Linked DNA regions of Homo sapiens: region 1 is linked to region 2. Evidence: fine-mapped expression QTL. A gene starts in region 2. The other region holds a variant in brackets. All regions are shown on one strand. Distances are between the middles of the regions.

Region 1 (4,304 bases), 29 kb before region 2:
CACTCTTGCTCCAGATCCTAGCCGTCACTTCCTCTCCTCGTTCAGGTCCCCGCTCTGATGTCATCTCCTCTGTGAGGCCTTGCCTGACTGCAAACTACACACCAACACTCCCTCTCCCCTTGTCTGCTTTGCTTATTTTCCTAGCACTTATCTCTTTCTAATATGTTAGGTATTTTCCTTACGTATTGTCTATTCTTTGCTAGAGTGTAAGCTCCATGAGAGCAGGGATTTGGGTCTTTTTGTTGTTCCTGCTATATCCCAAGAGCCTCACTGAGATCCTGGCACATTGCAAGCATTCCTTCAATTCATACTGGTTGAATGGGCCGGGCGCGGTGGCTCATGCCTGGAATCCCAGCACTTTGGGAGGCCAAGGCAGGCGGATCATGAGGTCAGGAGTTCGAGACCAGCCTGTCCAATATGGTGAAACTCCGTCTCTACTAAAAATACAAAAATTAGCTGGGCGTGGTGGCACGCACCTGTAGTCACAGCTACTCAGGAGGCTGAGGCAGAATTGCTTGAACCTAGGAGGCAGAGGTTGCAGTGAGCCGAGATCGCGCCACTGCACTCCAGCCTGGGCGATGCAGTGAGACTCGTCTCAAAACACACAAACAAACAAACAAAAACCTGTTGCCCAGGCTGGAGTACAGTGGTTCCATCTCAGCTCACTGCCACCTCCACCTCCCGGGTTCAAGCAATTCTCCTGCCTCAGGAGGCCAGGTTGGTCTCAAACTCCTGACCTCAAATGATCCACCCACCTCGGCCTCCCAAAGCGCCGGGTTGAATGAAGGAAGGATGAATGGAGAACTGGCGGAAGCTCTTGTCTAGAGCCAGCATTAGCTTTTCCCATAATTGGCAGATATTTCCTGGAGGTCACTGGACTTCCCTCAGGATGTGAGCTGAGGGCACAAACCAGTCCTGGTTACCTCTCAAAAGGTCAGAGTAGGCTGGGCACGGTGGCTCACGCCTGTCATCCCACCACTTTGGAGTGACCACTTTGAGATCGTGCCATTGCACTCCAGCCTGGGCGACAGACTCTGTCACAAAAAAACAAACAAACAAACAAAAAAAGGCGGACGTCTGGGTAATGTCTGTGATGTCATTCTCGCGTGCATTCTGGTTTGCTAGAGAAAGGAATGTCGACACAGTTATAAAGCATGTAATTGCACTTAATACCTATCTTATCTATCAGCTTCTTGGAGGCATCGTTACTGCTGATAAAGTGGACGAATAATTGTGGTTTCATTTTTCCTCGGGAAAATTAATCATGGAGAGAGGTGTCAAAATGTAGGTGTGCGTACAGGATCGTGTCAAGCCCAAAACACCACGTTGCGTGGTATCTCCTTGTTTGAGAATCTCTGCCCCAGGTTTCAAATCTAAGCTCCTCAGGCAGCTGGCCTGACCCCGGGCCAAACCTGTTCTTGCCTCTAAGCTCCACATGCACCGTTCCCTCCACCCACAGCGCGCCGCCCTCTTGGAAAAACTCACAGCCATCTGCTGACGACGAGCTCCGTGGTTGCAGCTTGAAGCACTTTCTTTTTTTTTTTTGCTCTGTCGCCCAGGCTGGAGGGCAGTGGCATAATCTCGGCTCACTGTAACCTTCGCCTCCGGGGTTCAAGGGATTCTCCTGCCTCAGCCTTCCGAGTAGCTGGGATTACAGGCACACGCCACCCTGCCTGGCTAATTTTTGTATTTTTAGTAGAGATGGGGTTTCACCGTGTTGGCCAGGCTGGTCTTGAACTCCTGACCTCAGGTGATCCACCTGCCTCAGCCTCCCAAAGTGCTGGGACTACAGGCGTGAGCCACCGCGCCCGGCCCACTCATTCTCTTTCTTGTGGAGGCGACACTGATTTCATTTTGGCGAGTCATCTCCTCCCACTCTTGGTTCTGTGGTTTCCGGTGTGGGTTCC[G/A]GTGTGCCCCTGGTAGCTCTGTCTCCAGGGGCAGGCACTCGATCCAGGCCTGACCAATCAGAATCTATTCCTCTCCCTGGCTACAGTGATTGGGTCAGGGTGGATGCCTCATTCAAGGTGCTGCACTGAGAATCCGCTCTGAGACTTCCACATTTTGGGAAAGAGGCACTTCCTCTTTCTGCCTCCAATGCTGAACTGACAGAATGAAAGCCTGGAGCTGTGGGTGGCTGTTGCTGCCACCCCACCTCCAGGTGAGAATCTGCTTGGGAAAGAAGCCACTGTAGAGGAAGGTTCAGCCAGGCGATGGTTCCAGACACATTCCTGACAGTGTGTGAGCACCTGGAAGTAGCCTTACTCTGGGACTAAGGTGCTAATGCTTATAAATATCCTTTTTTTGGCCCAAGCCAGTTTGGACTGGGTTTGTCACTTGCAACAGAATTTGAACGAGAGGTGTCCGGGCACGGTGGCTCATGCCTGTCACCCCAGCACTTTGGGAGGCCGAGGTGGGAGGCATCACCCAAGGTCAGGAGTTCGAGACCAGCCTGGCCAACACGGTGAAACCCAATCTCTACTAAAAATACAAAAATTAGCCAGGCGTGGTGGCGCATGATGTAGTCCCAGCTACTCAGGAGGTTGAGGCAGGAGAATCACTTGAACCTGGGAGGTGGAGGTCGCAGTGAGCCAAGATCACACCACTACACTCCAGCCTGGGTGACAAGAACGAGACTGTCTCGAGAAAAACCTGCAACACGAGGCCCTTGGTTGCCTTCCGGGGCCCTCTTCGTTTCCTAATATTCATAAGGAGACCACATTGGCAAACACGTATTGCTTTATTTAGTGTTTCTCTGGATTGCAGAAGTGTCAGCAGTGGGCTGAGACCCCCAGAAGGGCATAGAGGCAGCTGGGCAGCCCCCAGGCCCTTGAGGGTAGGAGCAGGGAGAAGCAGCAGAAGGAGGTGATGCCCCTGCCGCTCCTCCCAAGGCCAGCCCCGTCCCCACGCTCCCATGCCAGGGAGGGGTCAGGGGCCAGAAAAGGCCCTACATCCTTGAGTGGGGCCCGAGTGTGCGGGCAAGCTGTCTGTCATCCCAAGGCCTGGACTCTGGCAGAGGCGCTTTTCCCACCTGGTGGCTCCCAGGGCCGATTGCTGGTCAAGGAGCCAGATATACTCTTAAGACATGATGTGGGTTTTATGGGGCTCCCTGGCTCTGGGAGTGGCAGTGAGGCACGCTGAGGAAGGGCTGCCATCTTGGTTTTGTGGCAACCTGCCGTATGACCGTGGGCAAGTGCCTTCTCCTGTTTGGGCATCTGTCTTCTGCTCTGTAACATCAAGGGGCTGGGCTGGATGATCTCTCAGCGTCTTCCAACCTCTATGGTCTAAGACGGCCTTCCCCACTCCAGCACTGCCTCAAACTGGGATGATGAGGACAGTAAAAGGGCGTTCTTTTTTTTTTTTTTTAAGACGGAGTCTCGCTCTGTTGCCCAGGCTGGAGTGCAGTGGTGTACTCTTGGCTCACTGCAACCTCCACTTCCCGGGTTCAAGTGATTCTCCTGCCTCAGCCTCCCGAGTAGCTGGGATTAGAGGCGTGCACCACCATGCCCGGCTAATTTTGTATTTTTACTAGAGGCGGAGTTTCTCCATGTAGGTCAGGTTGGTCTCGAAATCCTGACCTCAGGTTATCTGCCCGTCTCCGCCTCCCAAAGTGCTGGGGTTACAGGCGTGAGCCACCATGCCCAGCCTAAAAGGACATTCTTAAGGCAGAAAGAAGGGGGCAGGCAAGGGTGGTCTCAGCCCCCAGATGGAAGTCAGAGTGGGCTGCAAAAGATGCAGATGGGCAGGCAGGGAGACAGGTAAACAGACAGAAAGACAAGGTGCCAAGGGAATCAGGAGGAGAGGTGTCCTGGCCAGGGAAGAGGGCACCAGAGCCCAGCCCACACAACCTCTCGGCTACATTCCTTGCCCTGCTGGAGTCAGGGAAAACACATCCACTGTGTCCTTGGGTGGGAAATGGCTTTTTTTAAAAAATAGTTTCCTATAAAGCATCAAAAAAACCTCAGAGAAAACCTCAGCAAAAGTTCCCTTCTCTCAAATATTTGGCATCGGCAGTAGGGCTGGCATGGCTCGCTCTGGCCCTGGCTTTCCTATTGCTGTGGCCCGGCCTGGCCCACTCCTGGGGTAGCTCCTGGCCCCTGCTGCTCCCTCAAGAGAGGGATGGGCAGGAGGTGGGAGATTGCAGGTGGGCTTCGGGGTGTCCCTGGGTCCCTGTCTGGAAGTTCGAGTCTTTGGTAACTGGGAAGGGGAGGAGGAGAAAAGCAAAGCATTGGGCGTTGGGAGGGTCCAGTGGGCGCCTTTATCACCGAGAATTCAGCCGTGGGGCGACCTGTGGGGGCGGAGAGAGA
Region 2 (4,376 bases):
GCTCAGGCCTGTAATCCCAGCACTTTGGTAGGCCTAGGCAGGTGGATCACAAGGTCAGGAGATTGAGACCATCCTGGCTAACACGGTGAAACCCCGTCTCTACTAAAAAAAAAAAAAAATTAGCTGGGCGCGGTGGCACACACCTGTAATCCCAGCTACTCAGGAGGCTGAGGCAGGAGAATAGCTTGAACCCGGCAGGTGGAGGTTGCAGTGAGCAGAGGTCGCACCACTGCATTCCATCCTGGGCAACAGAGCGAGACTCCATCTCAAAACAAAACAAAACAACAACAAAAACAAACAAAAACCTCACCTCCATCACTGCTCCTTACCTGGGCCAAGACAGCAGCCTAACTGGCCTCCTTGCCTTCCTCCTACCAATCCATTTCCTCTGGGGCAACACAAATCAAATCAACACCTCATGTTCATAGAGTGAAGGTTTAGGACACCCTCCATATGCCAGGCCCATGATTCACACTCACTGCTGCTTACCAGGACCCTGCCTATGAACTCCCGAGACCCCCCTGCTGTCCCCAGTTTACCCCACTGCTCCTGCATTCCGATGTGCCAGATGGCCCGCTCCAGTCCCCTCTCCCCCCACCCCTCCCCCCAGGAGGGGGCCTTCGCACCGTCGCCAGCCAGTCCAAGCTTCAGTGCCTGCACCTGCGGCTTCCCCAGCCCGGGGCACTCTCCCTGCCCACCTCACTGAGACTCGGCTCAGGTGTCACCTCCTCCAGAACCCCTTCCTGATTCTCCCAAACACGCAGCGCCTCCTTATCGCACCCCGCAGGAATCAGCTGTTTCCTTGTCAGTCCCTCCCAGGAGACGGCTCCCACTCCCTACACGCAGCGAGGCACACGGTGGGGCTCAGTCACCCCTTCCCGGACCCCTGGATGAATGAATGAATCTCAGAGCCAGGCGTGTGCGCGGGAGGCCGGAGCGTGAGGACTGAGGGCCGCGTGGCCATCCTCCTTCTCCGGCCACCCCGGAGCCCCCCGCCCGTCACACTCGGGGCGCGCTGGGCCCCAGGGGCGGAGAACGGGAAGGGGCGGGTTTAGGCGGCTTCTCCGGAACCCAGAGGCGGAGCAGGGCTGCGGGCGGGGCCCGAAGGGCGCGCAGGGTCCTGGGTCCTGCAGCCCAGGCCGCTCTTCCCCGCCTCCCGCTCCCCGCAGGTAAATCTAAGTCTCCACCAGGCTGCGCCGGCGCCTCCGGGTCGTGGGACCCCCCCCCCCCGCACGGGTCCACGCGGCCGTTCTTCGGCCCCAGCGATCCCCGGCCGTGACCCCTGCCTCGTGCACGGCGGCTCCCGGCCCGGCCGCCCGCTCCCCACACCCGCCCCCCGCGGCCGCCGTCCCCGCGCCCCGAGTACCCACCGGCGTGGCTCTTCCGGCGCGGGCGGGGCCGGGCTGGGCGGCGTGGCGGGCTTGGGGATCCGCGGCCCGGGCGCACTCTCCCCGCCCAGGGCCCGCCGGGGGCCGGGCCGCAGCCTGTCGTCATCCCGGGCAGGGCCGCGCACCCTCCGGCCCCGCCCCGCCCCGCCTCAGCCCCGGCCGCGTCCGCGAAGCCTCGGTGCGTGCGGCCCCCGCCTCGGCCCGTTCCCGGGGCCACAGCGAACACGCGCGCGCCCCTCCGGCCGAAGACCCGGCTCCCCGCCGCGCTGCTGGGGGCGTGGGGGCGCCCGACTTTCTCCCTCCTCCGGGCCCTTTGCATCTCCAGCCCCTTCCTGCGGGCCGGGCCAGGGCCGCGCTCCCCCGTTTCTACCCACCCGTGACCCTTCACCCACCTCCCACACCGTCCTTCTGTTCTGAGTCTTGGGCGGTCCCAGCCCTGCGGACTGGAGAGGAGCGGGGCGTTGACTGAGCCTGGAGCTTCCATGCCCTGGTCCTTCGACCTCACAGCAGCCGGCACTTGCCTTTTGTGCCCAGTATTCACGGTTCTGCCCACTGAGGTTCGGGAAGCCGGGGAAGAGTCAAGCCCAGACCTCCACTTCCAAAAATCCTGCTGCTAGTGGCCCTTGCATCCTTACTCTTCCACTCACCCCGTCTTGTTCAGTCTGTTCTGGCCCCGCCAAGGATCGGAACCCCTCCCCGCTGCTCAGCTCTTGCCCGAGGGCTCGCCTGAGAGGGGCTGCCCGGCCTTGGGGAGACGCTCCCACCCTCCTCCCAGCCCAGAGCATCCCAGCTTACAAGCTTGCAGGGCCTGTGGGGATGAACCACGCGGATGATCTCCCCGGTGGGTACCAGCTCCACTTGCAGCGCCATTCCGCCCTGCGGAGAGCCAGCGGCCTGGGCACCGCGGCCTGTGAGCAAGAGCTGCCTGCCCACTGGCGGGCTCCGACCACTCCGGGACCAGGAACCTACGGTCTAACGCCGGGATGGCCACTTGGTTCTGCTTCAACTGCAGCCCCAGGGGATGTGGCTGGTCCAGCTCCTCAGGACACGGCTGGAGCCGTCCAGGTCTGACTGGGAGGCCTCTTGGCCCGGATGGTTGGAGCAGGAAGAGGAGGGGCTGGGGATGGAGGAAATGCCTGTTGTCCCAGGTAACCAGAGGAGCCGATGCAGCCACCCATGGGGGACCCTGGGCTCCAGGTCAAAGGCTAGGACGCCTTTCCCCTTCCCCCCATCCCCACGGCAGCTCTATGGCTGGGCCCCTCCTCCTGCCCACTCTCTGGTACCACCTAGAGAGCACGGGGCCCACTCCCCAAACCAGACGGCATGCCCTCCCCTAGGCCAAGAGGACCCGTTAGTAGGCACTGGCTTTCCTGCACATCCCCTCAACGGGGCTGCCCCCCACAGCAGGTGAGCCCCCACCATGAGTTTGAGAGACCAGGGCTGCTGGGGCCTGGTCATGCAGGGCCCGGACAGGGGGCTGTCCCGCTGTGAGGAAGCTCTTGGCTTACCCTCCTCTGAGCCTCAGAGCTTGTGAGGTTAGTTCCTGGGTTCCCTGGGTGTGGGCAACCTCTAGCCCTGTTCATCCCTTGCGTTTCAACAGTACCCCCAGGTGACCCCCACCCCTGATGTTCCTGCTTTTCTATTTTTATTGTTGCTAAATCACAGCTGACACTTTCCTGGCCTGAGACTGAGCCCTCCAGTCTCCAGCCATTCCTTATAGGAAGTAAGAACAGGGAAGTGGATAGGGGAAACAGACCTTTCCAGAGGGAGAGGCTGGCATAGGAAGGGCTGAGTCCCGTGGGTGTGTGCTGGCACCGACAGCCCCATAGGCAGGGGCCTTCCCCCCGGCACCCTTCTCTCTCCCCACAGCTTCCCCCGCCCCGGAAAAGCTAGCAAGCCTTCCTTCCTTCCTCCGGGAAGCACATCTATCCAGAGCAGGCTCATCCCCGGCGGCCACACAATGGCCCTTATCAGCCGTGGAGCCAGGCGTAGACCCAGTGCACACCAGGTCTCACTTATTTCCTGTTTCCACCCAGTGGGTCGGGGTGGACCCAGAACGGCCATATCCTGACTGGGGCCCAGAGGACGGAGAGCACCCCCCATTCCCCTTTCCGCCTCTCAATCACTGCTGGGCTCACCCCTCCCACACAGGAGGCTGGGTGTGTGGCGACCTCAGTTCACCACGGGGGAGGTGAGCATGTGGGGGGACCCCTGGGGTCAAGCCCCGGGGCCGCATTAATCAGAACGGGGAGGCGGGTCTAGTGCGATACACTTTCTGCAATTGTTCTCCCACAGTAATCTTGAGAATAGGGACATCATCTGTATTTTACAGACTACTGAGACCGCTCTGCGGGTGGGTTCAGACCCCATTCCTGTTTCTGGTCCTGTGGGAAACCACAGGTGCCTGGAACTTTGAAGAGACTGTACCACTTCTCTGAGCCTTGGCTTTCCCATCTGCCCAATGAAGGGTGCCATGCAGTAACCCTCGTGATGGCTGTGCATGTGAGAAGGAACAGGTGGGCAAGTGAGGGCTTTGGAGGTCCCTAGGTATATGTGTTGGGGGCAGGGATAGGTTACCATGGGGGAAAACTCAGCAAGAAGGGGCTGAGGAGAAGTGGGGCAGAAAGAGAAGATGGTGGCATTCTGGACTGGTTAACGCAGGCAGAAGGCTCAACACCAGGGTATGCAGAGCAGCGGGTCAGGAGGGATGAACAAGAGCTCATTTGACTTAACAGAGTACATTAAGCGGCCACCGGCATAGATGGCATGCTCCACCTGGTTAGGGCCCCAGAGGCTCACCATTCTAGAACCTCATCCTAGCCCCAGTCCTGGCCACTTCTGCAAATCTCAGACACAGAAGTCTAGTTGGGATCTACAGGGTCCCTGTTCCTGGAATCTACAGCTAGTCCCAGGCCCATCACCGTACCCCCACCCCCCAATCATCAGTCACACGCAAGTGTAAAAGCCACGCTAATAATTACCCCTGCA

Evidence for each region.
Region 1: its variant is fine-mapped to the expression of MYO1C in whole blood (TOPMed, PIP 0.93).

What each region holds. Positions count from the first base shown.
Region 1 is chr17:1,461,468-1,465,771 of GRCh38, forward strand. It overlaps MYO1C (myosin IC), which reads right to left. Exons shown (of 32, transcript NM_001080779.2): 32 at 2,719-4,285. The coding sequence ends at 4,259. Among named protein-coding and RNA genes, the nearest start is that of CRK, 7.4 kb to the left of the region's middle. RefSeq lists enhancers at 1,529-1,608, 1,738-2,557. The variant G/A (reference allele first, on the strand shown) is at 1,908.
Region 2 is chr17:1,490,230-1,494,605 of GRCh38, forward strand. MYO1C (myosin IC) reads right to left here and starts at 2,457. Exons shown (of 32, transcript NM_001080779.2): 1 at 2,184-2,457. The coding sequence starts at 2,258. It overlaps LOC105371483 (a long non-coding RNA gene), which reads left to right and starts at 2,558. Exons shown (of 2, transcript XR_934145.4): 1 at 2,558-3,396; 2 at 3,721-4,376. INPP5K (inositol polyphosphate-5-phosphatase K) reads right to left here. Exons shown (of 12, transcript NM_016532.4): 12 at 4,348-4,376. RefSeq lists an enhancer at 789-1,508 and silencers at 793-1,232, 1,313-1,712.